4 linked regions of the Homo sapiens genome follow. The protein of the gene in region 1 interacts with the protein of each later gene in a biochemical or structural test. Each region holds a gene or a part of one and is shown in the gene's direction. Other genes may lie near its edges.

Region 1 (3,500 bases):
TGTCCCGGGAGCTGCATGCGTAGCCCTTTTGGCTGTGAATGAGTGCGTGAGGCCAAGACCCCTAAGACCCACTTCCTCAGTCGCCCCCACTCCCTATGGCCTGGAATGGAGGTGATGTCTTTTCCACAGTGACCTGGAGGGGCCCTGACCGAGACTGGACTCTGAAGATGGGTGGCCTGGCCAGTCCCGAACAGTGTCCAGGCATTTGGTCCATAGTCCCCTGTTTGTTGCCATCCTCAGCTACCTGGACAGCCTGGATCGGATTGGGGCCGCCGACTACCAGCCCACCGAGCAGGACATCCTCCGAACCAGGGTCAAAACCACTGGCATCGTAGAAACCCACTTCACATTCAAGAACCTCCACTTCAGGTGAGGCCCAGAGAGGCCCCCAGGCCCTGGCGAGGGCTAAGATGGGACATGCCCAGCCTCTCAGCGCATTGCGTTTACAGCGCCCAAACATCATCCTGCCCCAGGGAACCTGCGGGCTGGGGCAGGCAGCTAGATACTAGAAGGAACCTGTCTGTGTTTCTGCCAAGGTTAGGGGCTGGAGTGAGCAGGGAGGCTTTCTGGAAGAAGATTCCCAGAGTGGGGCTGTGAGGAACAGGGAGGATTTGGACAAGGAGGGGCAGCCTGTCCCTGAGGTGACTTCCAAGGAGGAGGAGGAGGTGGGCTACCAGGGGGCCCTTCCAAGGTCACCTTGGGGGGAGGAGCCAAGAGTGGGGCTGGGTAAGCCCAAGCTACCTCTGTGAGACCCTGAGGACCCAAGTAATCCCAGAGCTGGAAGGAGCAGAGAGAGCTGACCCACCCTCTCCTAGTACGCTTGGGAAGCTGAGGCCTGACAAGAGCAGGGCTTTTCCCAGGCACAGAGCACAGCTAGAACCCAGGGGCTCTGGGGCCTCAGAGCAGGGGCCTGACGGGTGAGCTGGTTCCCAGGGTCCTGCTGCAGCGCTGTGTCCCCACCTGCAGTAACATGCGTGCACTGAGGCCTGCTCCGTCCTGTGGGGAAGAGAGGCCAGCAGAGAAGGGGAGGGCAGGGACCCCTGCTGGGAGAGCTGGATTCTAATATTCCCTGCCTCCCATGTCCCCAACTCCTGCCCGCTCCTGTTCAGACTGAGGGGCCGAGGCTCTGGGCCCAGGAACCCCTAGGCCTCCGCAGATCTGGGGAGCAAAACCTTGGGCAGAGCAGCCCTGAGGGGCCTCTCTTGCCTTCCCAGGCTCCTTGGTCTCTCCTGCTCCCCCACTGGGAGCACAGGATGGGGATCTCAGCTCAACCCAGCCCAGCAAGGCGGGGTCTGAGAATAAGCATTCTGGAGGGGCCACAGAGGCCATCTGCCAACGCCCCTGCATTTCAGATGGGGAGGTGGGATCCAGGGGAGGATCCCCTGATTGATGGAATGAGAACCAGACCCATTCCTTGCTCTGAGCCCACACTAATCTCTGCCTGCAGTCACTCCGTTGTGTCCGGTGGGACCAGAGATCCTTCCCTGTCCCCCTCTGGCAGGCTGTGTGTCAGCAGGCATCCCAGATCTAGGAGGCTACAGGACTCCTCGCTCTGGGGATTGGGGTGGGAGACTGACCTTTTACTTCCAGGACGTAAGTCCCACCTGCCCACAGTCTCTTCCAGAATTTTTGTGCCCCCTCGGGAGTAGAGTCTGAGAGGGGGAAGAGGCCAGGCTCTGATCTGCCAGAAAGGGGCCGTACTGGGCAGAGGTGAGAGCGCCAGCTTTGTCCACAGCCAGACCCAGCTCCACCACAGCTGGACTCTCGCCAGCTTGGGCATGTCCTAAGCCCATGGGTGGCTCACTTCTGCCATCCACATAACAGGTGACATCTCCTGCCTGCCTCCCTCCCAGGCTGGTTTGGAGTTTGCCCAGAGCAAACCCAGGAAGGAATAGACTGAGAGGAGGGTCCTCATGCGAGGAGGACTCTCAGAGGCACTTCCTGGGGGTGGCTCAGGTGCGCCCTCTTAGTAAAATGCTCCTCAGATGCAAGGGCAGGTCTTTGAGTCATGATCTGTGAGCACAGCCAGTCCCAGGACAGACTCCAGGGGTAGTGCCTGGGGATGGCAGTGATCCAGCTGTCTGTCATCACCTGGAGTGACAAGGTCTTCTAGTGAGGGCTTTTAGCAAGGCTCTGAGCACCATGGCCCCCATCCTCTGCCTCTCAGCGTGCTCACAGCTTAATCCCCAGGCAGCCCTCACCTGCCTGGACCCTGCGCCTACCAGCTCCCTGCCTCCTACAGGCTGTTTGACGTCGGAGGCCAGCGATCTGAACGCAAGAAGTGGATCCATTGCTTCGAGGACGTCACGGCCATCATTTTCTGTGTCGCGCTCAGCGGCTATGACCAGGTGCTCCACGAAGACGAAACCACGGTGAGTGGCCTGGGCCCCCCGGGCAGGGGGCAGCGCTGAGGAGACGGCCGCAGGATAGGCCAGCCCTCTGAGCACTGGGCCTCGGGTGCCCACAATGGCTCTGGGGTCCAGCCAGCTGTTGTGGTTAGAGGTTTCCATCATGGACAGGCCGTGCCGGCACTCCACCAATTCTGTATTGCCAAGGCAAATGCCTCATGATGCCAGTGTGGCAGAGCCTGTGTATGCAACCTGATCACACAGAGCCGTGCAGAATGTGCCTCTTCCATAAACTTGGTGGAGTCACAGAGGCCATCAGGCCATAGCAAATTTAAGCAAACCCTAAAAAAACCAGGAGGCAGCCAAGCAAGAATGTACAGGCAACAGAAATAGCAGTCTTAGCCTGACAGCCATCCCTGGGGCACTGGCGTCAGATGCTGCTGAAGCAGCATGGGGCCGGGGATGCTGAGGGAGAGGTGGGGAGGGCCCAGGATGCTGCAGGAGAGTTGCGTGGGGTTGGGGGTGCTGGGGAGCAGTGTGTGGGGCTGATGGGCCAGGAAGGGCAATGGGGATGAGGCATGCTGGTGAGTGACAGTCGTGGCTCTGGGCTCCTTTGCCAAATGCCAGACCAGGCTCCTACCTTCTGTCTTGCGTCACATTCAGCCTAGGGCCTCAGTGAGGGGACATTCCCCTGGGAGAGTGCAGCCTTCCTCTGGGTCTAGTCCTGGCTCTGCTACTCACTGGCTTGCTGCTGAATTTAGGCAGCACCCTTTCTGGCTCAGTTACTATTTTCCATAAAAGGGAGATAATAATAGTACCTGCCTGTGGGGGGCTGTTGGCAGTGGGGTGGGTGATGCGTGTGCAGCGCTCTGGAGCTGTTTCTGGGACAGCAGCGCCAAGCTGGTGGTTGTACAGTTGCTGGTGATTGCCCTGAGCCTGCAGGTCCACTGCGTGGTCCCCTTCTGGGCTGCAGCCCGCCAGGCACCGAGCATGGCCCACAGGGTCACTGGAGACAAGCCCCAACACTCCTGACAGCGGGGCCCATAGGCTATGGGGTCACAGCCTGGCGTCTGTCATCTCCTTCTGTCTGGAACACATGCAAATCCCCCACCCCACGCCTCTGAAGGCTGGCACCGAGGGTTTGAGGTTGGA
Region 2 (3,807 bases), on another chromosome or scaffold:
TCCCCTCTCCCCAGTGGTACCAGGCCTGACGTCTCTCCATAGCAGAGGACGGAACCCAGGCGTTGAAGGGAGCAGAGCGTTCCAGTGCTGCCGGGCCCCCCTGCCCCGCCGCACATCTCACTGCAGCTAATGAATTGCTAATACAATTTTCTAGATAATTTTATTTCCATAGTCCCACATTTTAATGTGTTTCCAAAAGCTAGCATTTATTTGCTTAATCTCCCAGTGTAATAGAATCTGCCCTGACTCATCATACATGCGAACAATCAGCTAGGCTGAAACGCCAGCAAATTGTTTAATAACTCACATCTAGTCTCTAGATTTTTAACTCGCATGCACCAATAGCTTTTCTTGTGTCTCATCCACATCTCCCCCACTTTTCCATTTTTTTAAAAATACTTTTCTATCATCATAGCTGTTAGTTTCTAAGCAGAAAAATGGGGAAAGTGGATGCTGAGTCTCAGAGGCTCCCCTTTCTTCCCCTGGGAGCCTTGGTTGGTGGATACGTGACCAAGGAGCACCCCTGCACCTTGTGGAATGTCCCAGGAAGGGGAGAGAGACCACTGTAGGGACATCATAGTGTTTCCTTTCCAGCTGGTGACCATATGACTTCCAGCCTGTTGGCCAGTTGTGGAACTGGCCATCTGGGATTTTTTGCGTGCCACTCCTCCCTTGCTGTCCCACCTTTCTAGGATTTTCTCTCTCCCTTTGCCCTGGCAGCCTCTGCCCTGGTCTGGTCCCTACCCTCCTCCAGTGGCCCATCAGCCCTCTCGCTGCTTCTAACCGCTTGCTGCTGCTGTTGGTCCCCATGTGTGCCCAGAGTCACTGGCTTCAAACACAGGTCAGATCGTGCTAGCACCACTCGTCTTAGTCAAGTCAGGCTGCTATAACAAACTGCCACGGACTGGGTGGCTTATACACAGCAGACATGCATTTCTCACAGCTCTGGAGGCTGGGAAGTCTGTGATTGGGGTGCCAGCATGTTCAGGTTCTGGTGAGGGTCCTCCTCCTGGTTGCAGACTGCTGATTTCTCGGTGTCCTCACGTGGTGGAAGGGGCTAGCTAGCTCTCTGGGCCCTCTTTTACAAGGACACTCATTCCATTTTAATTACCTAATTATCTCTCCCAGGCCCCACTTCCTAATACCATCACCTTAGGGGTTAGGATTTCAAAAAAGGAATCAGAGGGGGACCCAGACATTAGGATCATAGCAACCCTCGGTCCTTTCATGGCACTGCATTGCCTGTAGAATAAAGTCCAACCTGTCCTGCCTGGCATATGCAGCCCTCTGATCTGACTCCCATCACCCTCCCAGCTTGTCTCCATCCCCAGGGCCTGACCTTGGCCCCATCTGCTCTGACATTTGCCAGTGGTGTCTCTCTCCTTAGCCTGGCACATGTGTCCCAACTTCTTGTCCTTTGCTTCTCAGATACTCAACTTTTAAAAGCCTAACTCAAAATCTCAGGAGCTCTTGGAGTCGCCCTGCCTTACCCTCTGGGTGGTTGTTAACTCAGCATCTCCCACTAGTCTGGGACCCAGTTTCTCTGCTCAGCCTTAGCCTGCCCCTGGTCACCTAGCACAGTGCCTGTACTTGGTAGTGGCTCAGTGAGTTGGCTGAATGGACATGAAGTGGGTTCAGGCCACCCTGAGAAGTAGGGACAGCATAGTGGGGCAGTATCGAGGGGCCTTGGAAAGGCCAAGGGGGCAGAGTGCTGCAGTCTGCCTTGCTGGGTGTATTGACACTCAGAGCACCTGTGGGTCTGGCTGTATAGGCTGAGATGTCCTATTGGGAATGCCATTCATGTTCCCTCTGCCCAGGTTCCTTCCATGCCGGGGATCTCAGAGGATGCATAAGGAGAAGCCTTGGCTCTTAAAGGGCATGGCTGGCCTCCAAAGCCTACTCAACCCTACTGATTTAAGGTAGCTGTTTGAACACCTGGCTTAATTTGGGCTCTCTGTGGGGTGGGGGTTAAGGGCAGAGAGGGAGTAGATGCTGGGGGCTCTCAAGTTGAAGGAGTGGGGGCCACCGGGCACAGAACGCATTGCAGATGCACTGTCCTCCTGTGTACGTCGGCCAAGCAGGGAGGGACATTGAAGACTCACTGTCAACTCTTGGCATTGCTTCTGTCCAGAAAGATACATCTCTCATTATGTCTCCCTCCAGCAAGTGAAGCTGAGTAGACTACTCAGCATTTCTGAGAGACCTTGGTGGCTCCCAGTGGGATTGGAAGGCCTCAGAGAGCTATGCCTTGTGACCCAGCCCCAGCTACTGCCCACTCCTGGCCAGGGGTTCTCTAGCCATTGCTGGAGCTGTACTAGAGGCAGGAGTCCTCTGTACCATCCTTACTGGGCCTCTTCCAGGGTAAGCCCAGACAGGCGGGCAGTCAGCTCCAGAGGTAGCATTGAGTCCAGCCCCGTGGTTTCTGAAAGACAAACCGAGATATTTTCAGATCCCAACTCTGCCTCTTTCTGTGTGATCTTAGGCAAGTTATTTAATCTCTCTTTTACACTGGTAAAAAGGGGGATAAGAATGCCTGCCTTGTAGGATTGCAAGTTTTAAATGAACTGACAACATAGATAAGGTACCTAGCATAACGCCTAGATTCGCTCCCCTTCCTTCCTGCTTTTTGTTGGCCAGGAGCAAAATCCTGTGCTGGCTGTTTTTCTCCTTCCCTGCTCAGCCTTCCTGACTGCTGGTGAGATGGGGCGTGGCTCCAGGTGCTTAGACTTCAGTGTCTGCAAAGGGAAGGGATATCAGGGTGGGTGTGAGGGGCACAGAAGTGTGGGGGACAGTGAGAGGTGGGCCTTGCCTGCCTACTAGTCCATCCTAACCCAGCCATGAGTGGGACGGAGGTGGTGAGGACCAGACCTCTCACTTGCTATCTCCATTGATGGCCAGGAAGGCAGGGAGGTTCTTCGTGCCATCCCTTCTCTTCCCCCTACCTTCCACCAGACACTTCCCGATTCCATGCTGAGCAGCCCATGGCTTCCAGCAGCCAAAGCTTTACCCCCTCCCCCCACCCACTCTGGACTGGACTGACAGATGCTAGGCCTACTTACGTTTCCTGCTTGTGCCTTCCCACACAGGGGACAGCGGTGTGGGGCCAAGTGCAGGTGATATTGCCCAGGCACCAGCACAGAGACACACAGATGGGCCTGCCGGGGAGCTCCTGTGCTCAGGAAAACAGAGCCCAAAAGGGTGGGCACTGAGCTGCCAGTTAGGACTCAGACACAAGGTCAGATACTTCCTCCTGTGGTGCTGCAGCTGGAAATTTCGGCCATGGCTCCAGAGCAGTGTCAGAAAGGGATTGGTAACAAACAGAAAATGGCAGCCTGTATGTGTGGGGTACTTTGGGGATGAACAGCCAGTTAGAATTAAATGAAAATCTCACATCACTCGCTAGCTTTCAATCCTTTGACAGTTGCCCATCGGGTTTAGGATGGAACTAAATCTCTTGACGTGGTTTGCAAGACCCTGCATGGCCTGGCCCTTGCCTTTCCCTTTAGCCTCCTCTTCTTCCCCAGCTGCACTGCACCATTCCTCTGTCTGATCCTCCCACCGGCCATGTTTCCTCCTGGCCCAGAGTGTTCACAGACACTATTCCATCTTCCGGATTCCGCCATTCACCTGGTGTTCTGGGTAACGTCGGTCATGAGAGCAGGGACTTTGCATGCTCTTCCTTGGTTATATCCCCAGTGCCAAAAAGACAGCCTTGCTTGTAGAAGGCATCAAATAATACTTGTTGAGTGAATGGACCTAAGATTCATGCTTTAGTGAGTGGAGAAGTAGTTAAAAAAAAAAAACAAA
Region 3 (3,807 bases), on another chromosome or scaffold:
TATTTCAGGACACCCACTTCACCTTCTTTCTCTTATGCTTATTCTTGGGAGTCGTGTAAGATTTCTTCCTAGTTTTAGCACTACCATGAAGTCTCAACACAACATAAAAAGAGTAAATTCCTTTTGAATGTTGTAGTCAGAGAAAGTTATGTCCATCTTCCAGTTACTTGCCAGCTTCCAGTCACTTGTCTTTGCTGATCAGGAGGAATTCGTTCCTTATCCTGGATATTGGCCTTTACATTTTTCTGTTGTATCCAAGGGTTCAACCTCTAGGGTGATGATCGTCCCTGTAAGGATTTTTGGAAAAATCTGCATTTTGGTGGAGGCTCCACCTGAGGTTGAGGGAAATGAAGAGATGGGTTAGACTGTGGACACAAGAGAGGTGACACAGGAGAGGGTGCTGGCCAGAGAGCAGCCCAAGAGCACACGCCCATAGATTTCTTAATTTGTATAAAAGTCATGTTGATAATTAATGACAGGAAGTCATTATCCAGAGAACTCAGATTAGACTACTGTTAAAAAGTACATGTGGCCAGGCGTGGTGGCTCACGCCTGTAATTCCCACACTTTAGGAGGCCAAGACGGGTGGATCACTTGAGCCCAGGAGTTCCAGACCAGCCTGGGCAACATAGTGAAACCCCGTCTCTTTAAAAAATGCAAAAAATTAGCTGGGTGTGGTGGTGCACACCTGTAGTCCCAGCTACTTGGGAGGCTGAGGCTGGAGAATCACCTGAGCCTGGGGACACTGAGGTTGCAGTGGGCCATGATCTTGCCTCTGCCCTCCAGCCTGGGCAACAGAGTGAGACCCTGACTTAAAAAAAAAAAAGGTATATGTATATTTTTCTCTATTCATCTTTTGATGACTCCAGAAGAATCTTACATGTATGGGGTCTTCCATTATACATTCATTGTGTTTTTACAAATACTTATTTCTAGTGACTACCCAGATATAATTCATATATCTCCTGCCATAAAGAAAGGTATAGATATTTCTTTGCATTTAAGGGGGACTTTACATACAGAGTTTAATTCTTCCTGACCTACTATAATCCCCGCAAATTTCAGTTGTTAGGACTGTTTAATGAATTAGAGTATTTCTAAAACTGAAACAAAGTTTTTCTGTGTTTGTTAGGTTTCAGTGAGGAGCTATTTGGTATTTTTGTGAGGTTTATGACAGCTTTTAACTTCATTTACTTGAGTTATAACTTACAGTAAAGTTTACACATCTTAAGAGTACAGCTTAGTAAACTTTATGTAAGTGTACCCCCACAGAACCACCATTTAGATCAGGGTTTCTCACCTCAGCACTGTGGAAATTTGGGGTTGAACAACTCCTTATTGAGGGGGGCTGTCCATTGCCCTGTAGGATGTTTAGCAGTATCCCTGATCTCCACCCACTGCATGATGCAGTAGCGCCCCTCCCTGGATGCCATGACCAAAAATGTCTCTAGACATTGCCAAGCGTCCTCTGGGGCCAAAATCACTCACCACGGCTCTAGATGAAGATATAGGATATTTTCAGCCCCCCGTGCTCTCCCAAAGATTCCGTCTCGCTTCCTTCCATTCAGGACTCACTCCCACAGGTAACCACTTTTATAACTTTTTTCACCATATACCAATTGTGCCTGCTTTTAAACTTCATATGTAATTAAACAGTGTATAATATTTGCATCTGGTTCTTTAGCTCAGCATTATGTTTTTGAGATTCATTTGTTGTTGTACGTGTTGTTATTTTTTAATGCTGTGCAGCGTTCCTTTGTGTGAATACACCACAGTGTATTCCATTCCACTACTGAAGAAATTTTAGTTGTTTCCAGTGTGGAGCTATTATGAATAATGCTAATATGAACATTCTCATTCATGTCTTTTGATGAACTTATTTCCTTTGGGTATATGCCCAGGATAAAAATTGTTGGGTAATAAGTCCAGTGTATGTTTAGCTTTAGTAGATACTGCAAAACTGTTTCATAGTCCAAATCAGTTTACATCCATCCCCACCAGCAAAGTGTGTATTGCTTCACATCCTCACCAGTACTTAGTATTGTTTGCCCATTTAACTTTAGTCATTCTGGTGGCTGTGTAGTGGTATCTCATTATGGTTTTAATTTGTATTTCCCTGGCTACTAATGATGTTAAGCATCTTCTTATATGTTTTTGGGTCAAGTCATTTGTATATTTTCTATTTAAAATGCCTCTACAAGCCTTTGGCCCATTTTTCTTTTTCTTTCTTTCTTTCTCTCTCTCTCTCTTTTTTTTTTTTTTTTTTTTTTTTTTTTTTTTTTTTTTTGAGACAGGGTCTCACTCTGTTGCCCAGGCTGGAAGGCAGTGGCACAATTAGCCGTGAAGCTGAGACTATAGGTGTCCACCACCACACTCAACTAATTTTTTTATTTTGGATATTGGGAAGGGGTAGAGATGGGGTTTCACCATGTTGCCCAGGCTGGTCTTGAACTTCTGTTTGGCCCATTTTTCTATTGTGCCGCTGATCTTTTATTATTGTTATTATTGATCTGTCACAGTTCTTTATATATTCTGGATACAAGCCATCTGTCAAAATTCTGTGTGTGTGTGTGTGTGTGTGTGTGTGTGTGTGCACGTGCTGCAAATCTCTTCTTCCAGTCTGGCCTGCCTTTACACTCTCATTCCATTATCTTTTGACTTTCCTAGTTTCTGTTGGAAAGTTATGCTTCTTTGAAGGTAGCCTGTTGTTATCCTCATAAAGTTTTTCTCTCATTTTTGACTTACCACAGTGAATATAATGTGCCTATATGTGGTTTTCATTTTATTTATTCTCCTTTGGGTTAACTGAGCTTCTTTTATCTGTGGATTGACGTCTTTCATCAACTTTGGAAAATTTTCACTCAATATCTCTTCAAATATGGCTTTGTCTGGTTTTCTTTCTTTCTCTCCTGCTTCTGGGACCCAAATCACAGATATGTTGGCCTTTTTCCTTCATGTCTCTTATTGTCTGATCTGTTTTGTTCATTTCGCATATCTTTCTGCTTCAATTTGAATATTTTCTGTTGACCTGTGTTTTAGTTAATTAAGCTGTCTTCCTCTGTGCCTGAGTCTTCTGTCAAATCATCTAGTGAGTTATTAATTTCAGAACTTGTTTTCTTCTAAATGTAGTATGCCAATTTGATTCATTTTAATACATTTAAATTATCTGATGAAATTTCCCATCTTTTCATCAGTTTAGTCCATCTAATTCTTATCTACTAAATCCAATGAGATCATCTGTGTGCCTGTATCCATTTTTTTATTCATCACATTTTTATCTCTCTTCACATATCTAGTAATTTTTATTATATGTAGACATTGTATATAAAGAAACTGTGTAGGTTCTGGTAATTTCTTCCACCAGCAAGGATTGAATCTCCCTTGGAGGGATTTCCTGTCTAAGGATGAAGGACTGAAGGGCTGATCACTTCAGGCCAGCAGGTATTAGAATGGGTCAGATCTGGTAACAGTTTTGGGGGTTTTTTTGTTTTGACATGGAATCTCCCTCTGTCACCCCTAGAATGGAGTACATTGGCACCATTATAACCTAGAATTCCTGGGCTCAAGCAGTCCTCCCACTTCAACCTCCTGAGTAGCTGGGATTACAGGCACTTGCCAATTCACCTGACCATTTTTTACAAATGTTTTGTAGAGATGGGGTCTCGCTATGTTACCCAGACTGGTGGCTGCAGTTTTAATAAGATTTAGCTAATGCCCAGTTCTTTCTTGTTCCTTGGGAATTTTCTCTTGGATTCCAGAATGAAAGCCTGATGGACTTCTATCTCCTTGGTCTCAAAAGAATGGAAG
Region 4 (3,807 bases), on another chromosome or scaffold:
GCTGCCTTATCCCATCGCCTATAAAGTGAGAAGTGACATGTCTCAGTTTTTAATGACTTTCCTCCCCTCTTATGTTTTATTGATGAGAAATTCCACCTCCCTCTTCACCCCTCATCAAATTCTATAACTTAGGCTTATGTAGTGACCCTGTTTCCTGGCCCACAGGTGAATATTGACCACTTCACTAAGGACATCACAATGAAGAACCTGGTGGAACCTTCCCTGAGCAGCTTTGACATGGCCCAGAAAAGAATCCATGCCCTGATGGAAAAGGATTCTCTGCCTCGCTTTGTGCGCTCTGAGTTTTATCAGGAGTTAATCAAGTAGTAATTTAGCCAGGCTATGAAATCATCCTGTGAGTTATTTCCTCCATAATAACCCTGCATTTCCCATTAATCTACATATCTTCCCACAGCAGCTTTGCTCAGTGATACCCACATGGGAAAAATCCCAGGGGATGTTGCTTACTCTTTTTGCCCACACTGCTTTGGATACTTATCTACTGTCCGAAGGCCTTCTTTCCCCACTCAATTCTTCCTGCCCTGTTATTAATTAAGATATCTTCAGCTTGTAGTCAGACACAATCAGAATCACAGAAAAATCCTGCCTAAGGCAAAGAAATATAAGACAAGACTATGATATCAATGAATGTGGGTTAAGTAATAGATTTCCAGCTAAATTGGTCTAAAAAAGAATATTAAGTGTGGACAGACCTATTTCAAAGGAGCTTAATTGATCTCACTTGTTTTAGTTCTGATCCAGGGAGATCACCCCTCTAATTATTTCTGAACTTGGTTAATAAAAGTTTATAAGATTTTTATGAAGCAGCCACTGTATGATATTTTAAGCAAATATGTTATTTAAAATATTGATCCTTCCCTTGGACCACCTTCATGTTAGTTGGGTATTATAAATAAGAGATACAACCATGAATATATTATGTTTATACAAAATCAATCTGAACACAATTCATAAAGATTTCTCTTTTATACCTTCCTCACTGGCCCCCTCCACCTGCCCATAGTCACCAAATTCTGTTTTAAATCAATGACCTAAGATCAACAATGAAGTATTTTATAAATGTATTTATGCTGCTAGACTGTGGGTCAAATGTTTCCATTTTCAAATTATTTAGAATTCTTATGAGTTTAAAATTTGTAAATTTCTAAATCCAATCATGTAAAATGAAACTGTTGCTCCATTGGAGTAGTCTCCCACCTAAATATCAAGATGGCTATATGCTAAAAAGAGAAAATATGGTCAAGTCTAAAATGGCTAATTGTCCTATGATGCTATTATCATAGACTAATGACATTTATCTTCAAAACACCAAATTGTCTTTAGAAAAATTAATGTGATTACAGGTAGAGGCCTTCTAGGTGAGACACTTTTAAGGTACACTGCATTTTGCAAAAAAAAAAAAAAAAAGTAATCTTTTAGCAACCCCAGTATTCCTTCACTATTTCGCTTCCTGCATTAGCAAATTTTACTTACAGTCAAAAGTGCAGATTTATACTCCTGACGTGTCTCATTCACAGCTAAATAATAGGCCATAGGACTTTTGGTAGGTTTAAACTTTTAATTCTGTATTTCATGATTATAAGTCTTGCTAGAATTTTTTCTAATCTTTAGTAGATTTGATTAAATAATGATTCACAGAATTTAGTAACAGAATCAAACTAAGCCATGTATGAGGGTAATCGAGATGAGGATATTAACTCAAAAGAAATAGGGTGATTTTTAAAGGATTAATAAAATTCTGAAATGTTAAGTAGAAGATTACATTGTCTAGTCTTGTATTTCCTCCTTCTGTTGCTCTCTTTCATTCACACACTCTCAGTTTCTCATATTTGTAGCTCATTTATTTGGTTATTTCCTAAGAATATTGAAAGTGAAGCAACTATGTGACTGTATTCTTCAGGTAAACACTGACTGCGCTTGTTGGATTTTCCCTATTTTTGTGACTTCAAGAATAATATGCCCTGCTGAATACATGCCATTTCACATTCTGAAACTGGGTAGAGTGGTTGGGTGTTCTGCCAACAATTGCTAGTGGTGTGAATTCATTCATATTTGCCAGTATTGCTCACTTCAAAGAAACTCCTTCATCAAGCAGTCCAGAGCTAGGCCAGATCAATGCTACAATCATGAAGTTCTCATTGCATGCAATTGTGTAGGATTGACAAGGAACTCAGATAAAAATTTCCAGGGTGCACTTCCAGAACCAGCTTCAACATATGTCTACATTGCCCCCAAGTTAATAAAGTGCCAACCCTTTACTCTCTCATACAGCCAGAAATGTTAGAAATCCAAAATCTTGGTGCATTATTTTTTCATAAACGCTAAAACATTTGAAGAAACAATTTAATTATTTAAAATTCAAGTATTTTATTCACATTATTTGCAATATCCAAATGTTTAAAAATTCCCAGATAATTAACTAGCTATTACAGATCTCACCTAGAGGGTTGATGTTATGAAGACTCCAGTGGACTGTACTCACAAATTGACTGGACACCCTATGAAAGTGGGTAGACCTCTCAGCGGAAAATAAGAAGGGCTTTTACCTACAGGGCAGGACAGGGTCCCATGAGAGCAGTTCTGTGGAGATATAAAAAGAATGGAAGAAGGAATGCCTTATAGTGATATTGTGACATTATATCTATATATCTACATATATCTATCTATCTATATCTACATCTATATAATCTTACATTTAAAATTGTATTCCTACACATATTAGAAACTCTTCTAATAAATGAAGTAAAAAAATTAAAAAGAATACAAATATTCCAGCCCCAAATGAGAAATCAAACATATTAAAATTGTTCAAGAAAATTTCTTTGAACACTTCTGAAAGTTTTTGGAAACTTAGAAAAGAGGGAAAAAAATCCAGTGTTACTAGTAATTTCCATGGTAATACAGATAAAATACATTCTTTTAATTCTGGGAAATTAGAAAAAGTGGGGTGATCTTTCCAGGAAAAACATGTGTAACATCTGCTTATCACTCCAGCTCCCTCCTCCTCCTCCTCTCCACGTTCCCTTGAGTAAATGTCTGGGAAAGCATGAAGCTTGATGCAAGAACCCTGTTGTACTGGCGTTTTCCTCCCCTGTGAAAACGTAACTACTGTTGGGAGTGAATTGAGGATGTAGAAAGGTGGTGGAACCAAATTGTGGTCAATGGAAATAGGAGAATATGGTTCTCACTCTTGAGAAAAAAACCTAAGATTAGCCCAGGTAGTTGCCTGTAACTTCAGTTTTTCTGCCTGGGTTTGATATAGTTTAGGGTTGGGGTTAGATTAAGATCTAAATTACATCAGGACAAAGAGACAGACTATTAACTCCACAGTTAATTAAGGACGTATGTTCCATGTTTATTTGTTAAAGCAGTGTGAATAGCCTTCAAGCATGTGAATAATCTTCCATCTTCCCCGCCACACATACACACACACACTTTTTGTTTCTTTCAGGTAGACACCTTTTAAAATGCAGAACTAACTGAGGCATTTCAGTAACTTTGCTTTCAAATCAATAAAGTCAAATGTATGGAAACATTTTGTGCCCTACTCTCCATACCCCGTGTACTCAAATTCTCTACTGTATGAATTATGCTTTAAGTAGAATTCAGTGCCAAGGAGAACTTGGTGAAATAAATTATTTTAATTTTTTTTTTATCCTTTACAAAGCCATGGATTTTATTTGGTTGATGTGTGCTCTGTACACAAGCCATTTCAATAGGATGGAGCTGTTAATTATTTTCCAAAGAGTAATAGACATGCAAAAGTTTCAATAAAAACTGGGCCAT

Evidence for each region.
Region 2: the proteins of GNAO1 (region 1) and ZBTB16 form a complex in vitro, tested with the Homo sapiens proteins (one study listed by BioGRID).
Region 3: the proteins of GNAO1 (region 1) and RGS20 form a complex in vitro, tested with the Homo sapiens proteins (one study listed by BioGRID).
Region 4: the proteins of GNAO1 (region 1) and RGS5 form a complex in vitro, tested with the Homo sapiens proteins (one study listed by BioGRID).

What each region holds. Positions count from the first base shown.
Region 1 is NC_000016.10:56,334,489-56,337,988, forward strand, and holds part of GNAO1 (guanine nucleotide-binding protein G(o) subunit alpha), read left to right. Parts: intron 1-240; coding exon 241-369; intron 370-2,242; coding exon 2,243-2,372; intron 2,373-3,500. UniProt on the Homo sapiens protein: Guanine nucleotide-binding proteins (G proteins) function as transducers downstream of G protein-coupled receptors (GPCRs) in numerous signaling cascades.
Region 2 is NC_000011.10:114,237,443-114,241,249, forward strand, and holds part of ZBTB16 (zinc finger and BTB domain-containing protein 16), read left to right. Parts: intron 1-3,807. UniProt on the Homo sapiens protein: Acts as a transcriptional repressor. Transcriptional repression may be mediated through recruitment of histone deacetylases to target promoters. May play a role in myeloid maturation and in the development and/or maintenance of other differentiated tissues.
Region 3 is NC_000008.11:53,887,165-53,890,971, forward strand, and holds part of RGS20 (regulator of G-protein signaling 20), read left to right. Parts: intron 1-3,807. UniProt on the Homo sapiens protein: Inhibits signal transduction by increasing the GTPase activity of G protein alpha subunits thereby driving them into their inactive GDP-bound form.
Region 4 is NC_000001.11:163,143,862-163,147,668, reverse strand, and holds part of RGS5 (regulator of G-protein signaling 5), read left to right. Parts: intron 1-165; coding exon 166-327; 3' UTR 328-3,807.